3 separate regions of the Homo sapiens genome follow, and all the other regions are linked to region 1. The links come from fine-mapping of genetic effects on gene expression. A gene starts in region 1. Each other region holds a variant in brackets. All regions are shown on one strand. Distances are between the middles of the regions. Region 1 holds the start of TENT4B (terminal nucleotidyltransferase 4B). Region 2 overlaps TENT4B (terminal nucleotidyltransferase 4B). Region 3 overlaps TENT4B (terminal nucleotidyltransferase 4B).

Evidence for each region.
Region 2: its variant is fine-mapped to the expression of TENT4B in whole blood (INTERVAL, PIP 0.96).
Region 3: its variant is fine-mapped to the expression of TENT4B in whole blood (INTERVAL, PIP 0.93).

The regions. Positions count from the first base shown.
Region 1 is chr16:50,151,590-50,155,824 of GRCh38, forward strand. TENT4B (terminal nucleotidyltransferase 4B) reads left to right here and starts at 1,717. Exons shown (of 12, transcript NM_001365324.3): 1 at 1,717-2,670. The coding sequence starts at 2,033. It also overlaps the pseudogene RPL10P14 and the pseudogene LOC124900375. RefSeq lists enhancers at 773-1,730, 3,368-3,417 and silencers at 957-1,046, 1,267-1,436, 1,547-1,706, 1,937-2,036, 2,217-2,266 and 1 more.
Region 2 is chr16:50,176,027-50,180,261 of GRCh38, forward strand. The region is part of intron 1 of TENT4B (terminal nucleotidyltransferase 4B); the gene reads left to right. Among named protein-coding and RNA genes, the nearest start is that of TENT4B, 25 kb to the left of the region's middle. The variant C/CT (reference allele first, on the strand shown) is at 2,116.
Region 3 is chr16:50,229,320-50,233,554 of GRCh38, forward strand. TENT4B (terminal nucleotidyltransferase 4B) reads left to right here. Exons shown (of 12, transcript NM_001365324.3): 12 at 1-4,235. The coding sequence ends at 9. Among named protein-coding and RNA genes, the nearest start is that of ADCY7, 35 kb to the right of the region's middle. The variant C/CTTTA (reference allele first, on the strand shown) is at 1,723.

The DNA of each region.
Region 1 (4,235 bases):
GAGCCTACATTGGCGTAGTGCAAGGTCAAAGACATGAACATACATCTGAAAGGCCTGTCTCCATGGTCCCTTAGAGCAGCCCATACAAGAAACAGGCTGCATAAACTACCAAGGAAGCTGTTGTTTGCAGCTGAAGGGTCTTTGTGTGTTTTCCGTATTTCTGGTCGTGCTATTTATTCTCTTACCAAAAAAAAAAAAAAAAGTAAGGTCAGGCGTGGTGGCTCACCCCCTTGTAATCCCAGCAGTTTTGGAGTCTGAGGTAGGAGGATCGCTTAAGTCCAGGAGTTCCAGACCAGCCTGGGCAGCGCAGAGCAACTTCGTCTCTATGCCATGTTGACGCGTGCCTATAGTCCTAGCTACTCGGAGGCTGGGGCAAGAGGATCGCTTGAACCCAAGAGGCCGAGCCTGCAGTGAGCTGTGAATGAGTCACTGAACTCCAGATGACAGAGCAAGAGTTAGTCTCGAAAGAAAGAAAAAGGTAGAGCGACACTTAGTTCTTTGATAGTTTTCCACTATTTGTCATAAAAACTTTCCAGGATATTGAGCTCCCAAAATGGAAGGCCAATATCAGGCATCAGGGACTTGTTCTGGACGTTGGACCAACCTTAAAGGGCCCACATAGAAGCTGTTCACTTACTTTCTTTTAGTCTCTTGATTTAAAATACTTAACATTCCCCTTTCCTTGGCTTTTTAACCACTGAGATTTGAAAGACATGCAAATAACGACCTAGTGGACAATCTTTGCTGATGCTAAATCTTCATTTTAGGATTAAAAGGTTTTGGGTTTTCTTAAAATTTAATGCTGAACTCAGAAGAGCTTTCTAAGGCTGTTGGTGCACCTTAGGGCAGGAGAGCGTCTTTGCTACGCCGCGCAGGAGTGTGTCTGCTTCTCTGTGCATCTACACGTGTTTGCGTGTCCCTGTAAAGTGGGTTGAGTGTGCGGCTGCGGCTTTCCGCCCTTGGCTCACACTCTCAGTCTTAGTGGTCTCCCCCAGGGCTATGCATGGGGTACAGGTTTCTGTGGCCTCAGGCCGGGGTGAGGGGTCCCCCACCCCGGCCAGGGCGCAGCAGGGCGGGGCACACGTAGCCGTGCAGGGTCTCGCGCAGCCCGCGTCAGGACCCCGGGGCACACGCTCGGGCAGGGGGCGTGTCCCCACGCCACCAGAAAAAGTGTTATAGGCTGTTTTTTTTTTTTTTTTTTTTTTTAAAAAGAAAGTGTTTTAGAAAGCAGGCAGAAGCCAAGACGTCAGGAAGGGTTGCGAGGGCCCGGGATCCGGCGGCCACAGGGATGGGAGGGGCGAGGAGCGAGGGGCGGAGTGGCACCTCCCACAACGCGCTCCCTGCGGGGCGGGCGGCAACCTCCATGCGGCCTCGTCCACGCTCAGCACCGGGGAAGCCGAGGCGGAGAAGCCGCGCGCGCCTCAGAAGCTCCCGGACGCCCAGGTACGTGGGAGCACTCCACAGATGGCGCAAGTACGGTTGGGCCAGGCGGTTGCGGCCCCGTCGCGCCGCGGCCTCTGTGACGCACGGCGAGGCCTCCCGGGCTGCTGCGCGGCGCAGCGGGGGCGGGGCGAGCGCGTGAGGGCGGGGCGGTGGGGGGGGGGGGCGGAGCGAGAGGGGCGGAGCCGGCAGAGGCCCCGCCCCGGGGCCGGAGGAGCGAGGACGCTACGGAGCAGGCGCGTCTCGCTGCCGCCGCTGCCGCCGCCGCCGCTCGCTCTTCTGTGGAGCCGCCGCCGCCGCCGCCGCCATTTGCACGGGGACCCCAGTGACAGGGGCTCGGCGGAGGGGCGGAGGGGCGGAGGGAGGGGGGGAGGGCCCGCGGAGCCCCCGAGGGCGGGAGCGACGCCGCCGGCGCCGGCCGGGCTCCCTGCGCGACCGCGCCGCCCGCGGCGGGCCCCGAGCAGCAGCAGCAGCAGCAGCGGCAGCAGCGGCAGCAGCAGCAGCAGCCGAGGCCGGGCGTGCGCCTGAGGCGGCGGCGGCGGCGGCCCTGCGGGCGGCCGGGAGGGGCGGGGGCAGCGGCCGCCGCCGTTTGATGGATCCGAGGATCGCCTGGTTTCAGCCAGAGCAGCTCGGACCGTCCAACAGTCTGTGGATGCAGATCTGGGAGACGACCCAGGGGCTGAGGAACCTCTACTTCAACCACCACTGTCACAGCAGCGGCGGCGCGAGCGGCGGCGGCGGCAGCAGCAGCAGCAGCAGCACGGCCACCGGCGGGAGCGGCAGCAGCACCGGCAGCCCCGGCGGCGCGGCCTCGGCCCCGGCCCCGGCCCCGGCCGGCATGTATCGCTCCGGGGAGCGCCTGCTGGGCAGCCACGCGCTGCCCGCGGAGCAGCGGGACTTCCTGCCCCTAGAGACGACCAACAACAACAACAACCACCACCAGCCCGGGGCCTGGGCCCGCCGGGCGGGCTCCTCGGCGTCCTCGCCTCCCTCGGCGTCCTCGTCCCCGCACCCTTCGGCCGCCGTCCCCGCCGCCGATCCAGCCGATTCGGCCTCGGGCAGCAGCAACAAGAGGAAGCGCGACAACAAGGCCAGCACGTATGGACTCAACTACAGCCTGCTGCAGCCCAGCGGAGGGCGGGCCGCGGGGGGCGGCCGAGCAGACGGCGGCGGGGTCGTGTACAGCGGGACCCCGTGGAAACGGAGGAACTACAACCAGGGAGTCGTGGGGTGAGTGCTGGCTCTGCGGCCCGATGGCCTGGCCGGTGCGAATGCGCAGCCGGGCACACGCCCACAGAGGGGGGTTGTGAGGGTCTAGGAGCGGCCACCCCCACGGCCTGCCTTCGCTGCTGTTGCACGGGGGTGCTGCTGGCCATCCCCAACCCCCCAGTCGTTCACACCTTTCCCCAAGCCTCCTTAGCCGTCCACACCCTCCGTCTCCTGTCCTCCCTTAGTCGTCCACACCTTCCTCCCCTCCCTCTTAACCGTCCACACCTTCCCCAGGCCCCCCCCTTTATCCATTCACTCTCCTCCCATCCCCCTTAGTTAAACACATCTACCCTTGACCACCACCCCGCCTCCAGCCCTCCACACCTTTTTCCCCATCATCACAACTCAAGATGAGACCGCTTAGCACGGGCCTATCATTCATTCCCTGAGAACATTGGTGTGTGAGTGTTTTTTGATGGTGCAGGACCCGGAGGTGCTTTCCTTGCCAAGAATAGAAACATCCAGAATGCTCCTCCCCATCCCCCAATCCCAGACAGCAATTATGTCAGCCCTGTAAGGCATTGCCTGCTCTTGACCCTTTGGCCCATCTTTTTATTTTTAAAAAATTCCCATGTCACAGATGCCCTGTCTATGCAGAGGGTGGCGTGGGATGGGTGACCACTAAGTTTAGGCTGGTGAAGGTGGTGAGCCCTTCTGAGGCCCTGATAGAACTTTCCAGGAGTTCATGGTCCGCGGCTCCAGCTTCTCACTGTAAAGTTGTCATCCTGGCAGAGGCAGCCAATGCTTTTCATTCTAGGGGGTAGAGATTTATGCTAATGAGTGAATATTGCACCACTAGTGACTTTCTGTTTAAAGTTCAGCTCTTAGAAAATGGAATCTTACCTGACCCCTAGTGAATTATGTACATAAGCAGGGAATGTTTCCAACTAGATCTCCCTTCAGAAGAGTCCCTGTGCTGGAATAGGTCACTGAATCTTATTTGTTTTGTAAAACAAAGCTTTTGGGTCTCGTGGGTGTGTGTGTGTGTGTGTGTGTGTGTGTGTGTGTGTGTGTAGCTTGAGTATGGAGAACCGGCTTTCAAATTGCTTTTCATTTTTCAGGTTGTGTTTTACATTGAGGGCTTTAGCATGCAAATGAAATTACCAATTAGTAATCCCATGTGAACCTTTTCCTGGATTTATTCATTCAGATCTGCCCTGCTTTGGCTGAGAGAGAGAGTTCTGTGTACCTTTTTGAAGGTCTGGATAAAATGAGTTGGTGGGTTCCATCTGCTTCCAGTGGGCTGGTGTCTGCTCTATGCTACTATTACAACTCCTACCTTTTGTGGAAAATGCAGTCAAGCGTTCTAGGACTGGTGCTGTGGTACATGTCAAACCTGCCCTCACATTCCAGAAAGGGAACCCTTTTAGGGTTGAGTCCTCTGTTGCTAAGCTTCAAGGGTGCTCTCCATGGTCATCACGTTTTATTAAAGGCTTGTGGTTCCATCCTGTTAGCATTTCCAAGTCTACGCGTAAACCTGTGGTTTAGTGACAAGCAAATTGATGTTGAGGGTTTCTGGTAGTTTC
Region 2 (4,235 bases), 24 kb after region 1:
CCTACCTTGGCCTCCCAAAGTGTTGGGATTACAGACATGAGGCACTCAGCCCAGCCAATATAATTCTTTTTTTTTTTTTTGAGACAGTCTTACTCTGTTGCCCAGGCTGGAGTGCAGTGGCATGATCACAGCTCACTGCAACCTCTGCCTCCTGGACTCAAGCTGTCCTCCCACCTCAGCCTCCCAAGCAGCTGGGATTATGGGTGCCCATGACCACACCCAGCTAAGTTTTTAAATTTTTTTAGAGATTGAATCTTTCTTTTTCTCAGCCTGGTCTCAAACTCCTGAGCTCATATGATCTGCCCGCCTCCGTCTCCCAAAGTGCTGCGATTACAGGCATGAACCACTACGCCCAGCCTACAATTTATTTGTAATCCAAGTTTTATTGAAAAAAAAATCCACATATAAGTGGACATATGTAGATCCAACCTGTGTTGTTCCAGTGTCAACCATATATACCAATAATTCTTTTTTTTTTTTTTTTTTTTTTTTTTTTTTGAGATGGAGTCTTGCTCTGTCGCCCAGGCTGGAGTGCAGCGGTGCAATCTCATCTCACTGCAACCTCTGCCTCCCGGGTTCAAGTAATTCTCCTGCCTCAGCCTCCTGAGCAGCTGGGACTACAGGCATGCACCACCACGCCCAGATAATTTTTGTATTTTTAGTAGAGATGGGGTTTCACCATATTGGCCAGGCTGGTCTCAAACTCCTGACCTCAAGTGATCCACCCGCCTTGGCCTCCCAAAGTGTTGGGATTACAGGAGTGAGCCACTGTGCCTGGCCTATAATTCTTTACGTATATTGTTAGATTCAGTTTGCTAGTATTTTATTTAGCATTTGTGTATCTGTGTTCATGAGAGGTATTGTTCTGTAGTTTTCTTTGGTTTCTTTTCTGTCTGGTTTAGGGTAATGCTGGCCTCATAGAATAGGTTAGGAAATATTTCCTCTGCTTCTGTTTCTGAAAGAGAATTGAGGTAATATCTATTTTTTTTTTTTTGAGATGGAATCTTGCTCTGTCGCCTAGGCTGGAGTGTAGTGGCGCAATCTTGGTTCACTGCAACCTCTGCCTCCCAGGTTCAAGTGATTCTCCTGCCTCAGTCTCCTGAGTAGCTAGAATTACAGGCATGCACCACCATGCCTGGCTAATTTTTGTATTTTTAGTAGAGATGGGGTTTCACTATGTGGGCCAGGCTGGTCTTGAACTTCTGATCTCAGGTGATCCACCTGTCTTGTCCTCCCAATGTGCTGGGATTACAGGCGTGAGTCACTGTGCCTGGCCCGAGATAATATCTAATTTAACAGTTTGGTAGAATTCACCAGTGAACCCATCTGGGCCTGGTGCCTTTTGCTTTAGAAGGTTATTGATTATTGATTCAATTTCCTTAATAGATAAAGGTGCATTGAGATTGTCTTTTCTTCTTGGGTAAGTTTTAATACATTGTGTCTTTCAAGAAATTGTTCCATTTCATCTAGGTTATCAAATTTGTGGGATTAGAGTCCTTCATAATATTTCTTTGTTTTGCTTTTGGTGTCCATAGGTTCAGAAGTGATGGCCCTTTTTCATTTTTTCTATTAGTAATTTGTGTCTTTGCCCTTTTTTTTCTTTGTTAATCTGGCTAGAAGCTTATCAATTTTGTTGATCTTTTCAAAGAACCAGTTTTTGGTTTCACTGATTTTTCTCTATTAATTTTGTTTTCAATTTAATTGATTTCTGCTCTAATTGGTTTTCTTCTGCTCACTTTGGATTTAATTTTTTTTAGTTTTTCTAGAAAACTAAGTTTTTAAGTGAAAACTGAGATTATTGATTTTTAGATCTTTTTTCTAATGTTTACAGTTAACACTGTACAATTTCCTGTAAGCACTGCTTTCTCTATATCTTACAAATTTTGATGTCATATTTTCATTTTCATTTAGTTAGAAATATCTCTTGAGACTTCTTTGACCCATCTGTTATTTAGAAGTGTATTGTTTAATCTCCAAGTATGTATTTTGGGATTTTTCTGGCTATCTTTCTGCTGTTGATTTCTAGTTTAATTACATGTGGTCTGAGAGCATACCTTGTATGCTTTCTATTCTTTTCAATTTGTTAAGGTGCTCTTTGTGGCTCAAGGTGGTCTA[C/CT]TTTTTTTTTTTTTTTTTTTTTAAAGAAAAGCTGGCCAGGTGCAGTGGCTTATGCCTGTACTCCAGCACTTTGGGAGGCGTAAGTGGGAGGATCACTTGAGGTCAGGAGTTTGAGACCAGCCTGGGCAACATATAGAGACTTCACTTGCACAACAAATTTTTAAAATATTAGTTGGGTATGGTGGCATATACCTGTATATGGCTGAAGTGGGAGGATTGCTTGAGCCCTGGAGGTTGAGGCTACATGAGCCATGATCGCACCACTGTACTCCAGCCTGGGCAACAGAGTGAAATTTTGTTCTCTCTTGAAAAGAAAAAAAAAGTTGATGACATAAAGTTCATTCATCTTTTTTGTATGTGACTTCAAAATAACTACTGATGGTTAAAAAAAAAATCAGAATGATGCAACCCAAGTGTCCATCAATGGATGAATAGATAATATGTGGTGTATGAATACAATGGGCTACTATTATTCAGCCTTTAAAAATAAGAAAATGCTGACACTGCTGTAACATGGATGAACGTTCAGATCATTATGCTAAATGAGAAAAGCCAGACACAAAAGGACAAATATTGCATGATTGCACTTATATGAGGTATCTGGAATATAAGAGTCATAGAAACAGTAATTCAGTAATTAGAATAATGCTTGCCAGGGCCTGTGGGGAGGAGGGAATGAGGAATTCATGTTTAATGGGTACAGAGTTTCATTTGGAAAAGATTAAAAAGTTATGGAGGTGGATGGTGGTGAGGATTGCACAACAGTGTGAATGTACTTAATACCACTGAACTGTACACCTAAAAATGATTAAAATGGTACATTTTATGTTACATATGTTTTACAACAATTTTTACAGATGGAAAAAAATTATAAAAAACATCAGGATGGTGTTGACAGTGAAAAGGTTAAAGAGTTACTTTAAAAATTTACTTTATTCCAGCCGGGTGCGGTGGCTCACACCTGTAATCCCAGCACTTTGGGAGACCGAGGCGGGTGGATCACCTGAGGTCAGGAGTTTGAGACCAGCCTGACCAACATGGAGAAACCCCGTCTCTACTAAAAATACAAAATTAGCCAGGTGTGGTGGCGCATGCCTGTAATCCCAGCTACTTGGGAGGCTGAGGCAGGAGAATCGCTTGAACCCGGGTGGTGGAGGTTGCAGTGAGCCGAGATCTTGCCATTGCACTCCAGCCTGGGCAACAAAGCGCAACTCCGTCTCAAAAGAAAATTTTTTTTTTTTACTTTATCCCAAATGTTTATATTTACTTTGGGGCTTATGTGACCAGTTTAATTTTCATTTGTAATTGACTTGATAGAACACACTAATGTTCAGTTAAGATTTCTTATGGTGTGGTGAGGAGTAGGATTTTTATGTAAATAAGCCCAAAATTGTATATATGAGGTTAATCTGATATTTGCAGAAGATATTCATGCATTACTGTAAGGACCACTCTGCTTATTCATTTGACCGATTTGTTACAACATGGTTAGAAATCATCAAGGTGTTTGAGATCAAAGGATCTTCAGAGGTGATTTACTCCAATCCTTTTTTAAAAAATTAATAACTTGAGCCTCAGAGAAGTTAAGTGACATTACCAAGTTCTGCTGTTAGTATAGTGACTTTATCTTTACCTGAATCCAGGGTTTCTTAGCCCTAGTCTGTAATGTGTCCTAGTGTGCCTCTAGAATCTGGTCCTGTCAGCCCAAGTCTGTTAAATCAAATAAAACCAGGGCTTGGTGCTTCACCTTGTCTTCTGCCATACCGTTGGGTTTCCTGTGGACCATGCAGATAATGATGATGGGCTCAGTGGGCTTGATAGTGATAACTCCTAAAGCAGCTCCTTCTAAGTGCGGTTCTCAATCTGAGGAAGTTAAAAAAAAAATTAGTGACTAGAACCCACTTCTCAGGTACTCTGATAAAATACATTTGTAGGGGAGTGATAGTTTTCACTTTCTTTTTTTCTTTTTCTTTTTTTTTTGAGATGGCGTCTCGCTCTTTTGCCCAGGCTGGAGTGCAATGGTGCGATCTCAGCTTACTGCAACCTCTGCCTCCCAGTTTCAAGTGATTCTTCTGCCTTAGCTTCCTGAGTAGCTGAGATTACAGGTGTGTGCCACCATG
Region 3 (4,235 bases), 78 kb after region 1:
TGTAGATAGTCAGCGCTGCGCGGTGGACTGTCTTCTCTGTGCAATGATCTCATGCTCAGGACAGTTGCGCAGGGACTCCTGGGAGATATTCAGGAGCCTCACACTGTTCAGACGTTGACTTAGCAACTGCGTTTTTTCCCAGCTCGCCACAGAATGGATCATGAAGACTGACAACTGCAAAAAAAACAAAACAAAACAAAAAAAAAAGCAAGCAAAAAAGAGGGAAAAAAAAGGCTGCTTATTTGATAAGTCATATGCTACAACAGGGTCATTTTAAGATTTAAAGCTTGAATGTAAAATAAATATATTTCTCATTGGCTTTATGCAGAGTTATAGGGAATAGTATTCAGTGTTGGTAGGGTGATAGAAACAAAAAACAGTATCAGAGGATGAGGTGGGGAAGGAAAACAAAGGTATCTGATAGGAAGTCCAGATTCCAAAGGGGAAAGTGATCTGTGCATGTTTTTTTTTTAAATATTTTTGCATATATTTACCATTTTATTGTGTGTATATATAGAAGACCATATAGGAGATTGATATTTGTAATAGTGGATTTGTTAATAATACTTTTTACATAACATTACTGTTTAAATTGTAAACAGATTTTTTCTCAGGATTAGTTTGAAAAATAATCTAAATTGTCATCTTAACATCCATATATAGGGAAGTGATTAGTTCTATTACTCAATTTGTTTTTCTCAGCATTGAAATGACTTAATAGAACCCTTGTGTCCTGCTGCAAAAATTTTTCCTCTCTAAAGAAAAGGTTTATGGTGGCAAATGATGTTTATTTTATTTTGTAAAAAAAAAAAAATGTACTATGTACTTTTGTGTAAACACTGAAAAATCTCTGGTCATCTCCGAGAATTAACTTGCAACTGTTTTCTATAGTGCTGTCGTCTTGGGCAATGGGCAATTACATGACTTTGTGTTTGCTTCCTTTGCAGTCTTTTTTTTTTCCCCCCATTTCTTCCTAATAGGAAAAAAAAAAAAAAAAAGGTCACCCATGTCTGGTCTCATTCCTGTTGCAGTGAAACTTCGAGTTCCACAGACTTTGCATGCTGGCTTCTCTAACCCTGTGTGCTGCGTGTGCCTGTTTCTCATCTCTTATTCTTTTTAAAATTCATGCTTAACTACTGTGGGAGAATAACTGTAAACAGCTTTAATTAAATCATACTTATAAAAAACTATTTTCTTATATTCCACTCTATGCTTTTGGTATTGTTGATCTTTACAAATTAAATGGTCTTTGATAATGGATCTATTTTGTATTGCCTTATTAAGACCAAATACTTCTTGTCATCCCATTCTTTATCCTCTTCTTTCATGGAATTGTTATCGTTAATTAAAACTTTTTTAAACATTGGCTTGTTTCAATCATACTGTAAATTTTGGTTGTAGTCAGCTTTGAGTGCAATGAGATGTATAATTCTGTTATCATTACCTGTTGAGTTTGAAACTCAGTTGGGAATATTTAATATAATAGAATGTAAGTGACATTTCTGAAAATGCTTTCTTTCAGGGTGAAAGCTCTTATGTTTAGCATCAATGTGTATGGCTCTGTTAAATGCAGCCATTTCTGAGACGAGATTCTTTTATATATATATACATATAAAGTACTATTGGCTTTTAGGAGTTTCTTTTATATACATTTATGAAATACTGAAGACCAATCAGACCATTAATGGACACTTAGTGTAACTTTTTATAAAGAAAATAATG[C/CTTTA]TAAAGTAAGACCAAAACTGATGTCATCACTGAAATTAACAATTTTCAATATGTTCATATTTTAATTCACAATGGAAAAATGTGTTCCAAAACTGGAAACTCATAGTACTCGTGTAAACTGTGGAAGATTTCAAATGTGATGTTATTTTGACAATGTTTTAAATTTTAGAGTCACATTTTATTCTGATCAGAATTTTTATTGAGATGTTGAGCTTTTGTTTTTGAAACTAGTTTGTCATAACATTGTGCATAATCACAGTATTTATTTTCTAGGACAATTGTGAATGTGTAGACTTATGTTTACTGCTAAGGGAACAATTATTTATAAAATAATATTAAATCCAGTATTAGCTGCCTATTTCAGACACTTAATACTTGCAGAGATCTATGTTACATTTACCACACTGAAGTTTTTTTTGTTGTTTTTTGTTTGTTTTTAAAGAATCACCCTCATTGTTGAAAGTAAATGTACTCTTAGGGTGCGAATATTAGTGTTCCAATAAGCATGTGATTATATTAAGGTGGTGGTAGCGGGAAGATAATTCTGATTCCATTGGGAATCTTAGGTTTTCGTAAATTTATTGGGAAAATAGTTTTTCCTGTACTGCTGAAGTTTCTTTTTGGTAAACAGTATCTTTCTAAAAGAAAAAAGCATGAAGGAGAAATTGAGGTGTGTATACATTTCCTCAAATGACCAGCATTGTATTCGTGAATACTGTGTATCTTGCAGTGAACAGTGTGGAAGCTGTTCATTTTTCAATCTGAAGTAAAATACTTTCAAGAACTTTTAGTTTGCCTGCTCATTTGTTTTATACATTTCATCTATTTGACTCCTATCTTATTTCTTTTTTGAGTTTTAATACTTCCTATATTTTGTGAATATATCAGAAATGTGTCATTTATATATTAGAGTCCATTCATATCCATGAATCATAACCTTCCTTTGCTAATACTTGTTGAATGGGATTTTACAAATTCTCCCTCACTCTGGTGACATTTCTCAGGCAGTCATGTATGTGTACCTGGCCATTAGAAATATTAATATTTAAAGACTGTTTTTTAGAGGAGCTGATGGGTTGGTGAGGTGTCAGCACAAAATCTTACTGGTTATGTTTTGATGATAAAAGTATATCCATTTTTTCCCTCCAGCTTTAAGGTGACTGTGAAGGTGCCTGGTTTTGAATGTCTTTGTTTGGTTTGGAGATGTCGCACTCAGTTTTCAAATCTAGCTTGGATCTGTAGGACCTATGTTTTTTACAAGTAATTGCCCTCCAGTCTTCAACAGTTGATTCTGTTTTATTTTTATCCTGTTTTGAGTGTACTTTACCTTTACTTGCATTTTGAGCCTCATTAATATTTAGGTTATTTGATTTGGCTCCAGATATTCCTAGATCTGCACAGGGCAAAACATGGGCTATAGGGTGAGCATTTTTAATTGTCTTTTTCTGCTGGAACCTTATATCTCTCCATGTGTTTTCTGCTCCTTCCCTCCCCCATGAAATGGTAAGTGTGACTTGTGTTTGCCTGAACCTGTGGACTAGTGTTTGGGGTTTCTGGAAACACTAGAGGGTCAGAAAAGAGTAATGACCACCGTGACGTGCAGGATTCTCTTGCTGTGACATGTTCATTGCAAAGCCCTCTCCAGTGACTAGGAGGTGTAGTTATTAAGGTTGATCTGTTAGAAATCACCATTATTAGGTATTAGTGGTAGATGTTGCTGATACTTTTATTGGTCATGACTACATCTCAGTTTTACTTTAATATTGATCTATAGTTTGATCAGTTCCTTGAATTCTAATATGTTGATTTCTCAGTGTTTCTGTCACTAACCAAGAATGTTTCTAGGCAGTTGGTTGCTTCACAGTCAAAACTAAATGGTAAACTATCAAAAATACATTCCCAATTTTGCTGTGATAAATATTGAAATGTTAAAATTAATGAACAGAAGAATTTATTCTTACCCATCTATTCTTGTTCTCCTAGTTCATTAAACTTTCAGTTATTGGAAAGGCACATTCTCAAAGTATTTTATGAGCAAAATATTCTATAAATGCGTCTAACAAACCTAATTGAATATAAAAGTTATATTTAGTAGTTACTGTTGATAGTAATTTTCATCAGGGTCATAGTTCATCTAGTAAAATATTTAGAGAATGATGTTAACATTCCAGCATTAAAGTGGGAACAAAGATTTATATATGAAATTCCTTAAAAGAGTTCATCTTGCCTTGGTTTCTGACCCTCAAGACTCTAGCTACCTGCCATCTTGTCAAAACATTTGTGGGTAGAATAAGTGTTAAAGATCAAATTTTAATATGCTTCTCGATATTTAACATAGCTAAGAAGCCAGATTTTACTGTAGAAGTTATTTACATGATTTGAAAACTTGACCTAACTGGAAGCCTTTTTCTCAGTCATCTTGTTCTAAGCCATCTTGACTTCACACCCTTAGCGACTTTTCTTTTTTTTTTGGTCAAAGATAATGAGCTAAATATATATAGACGTTGAATGTT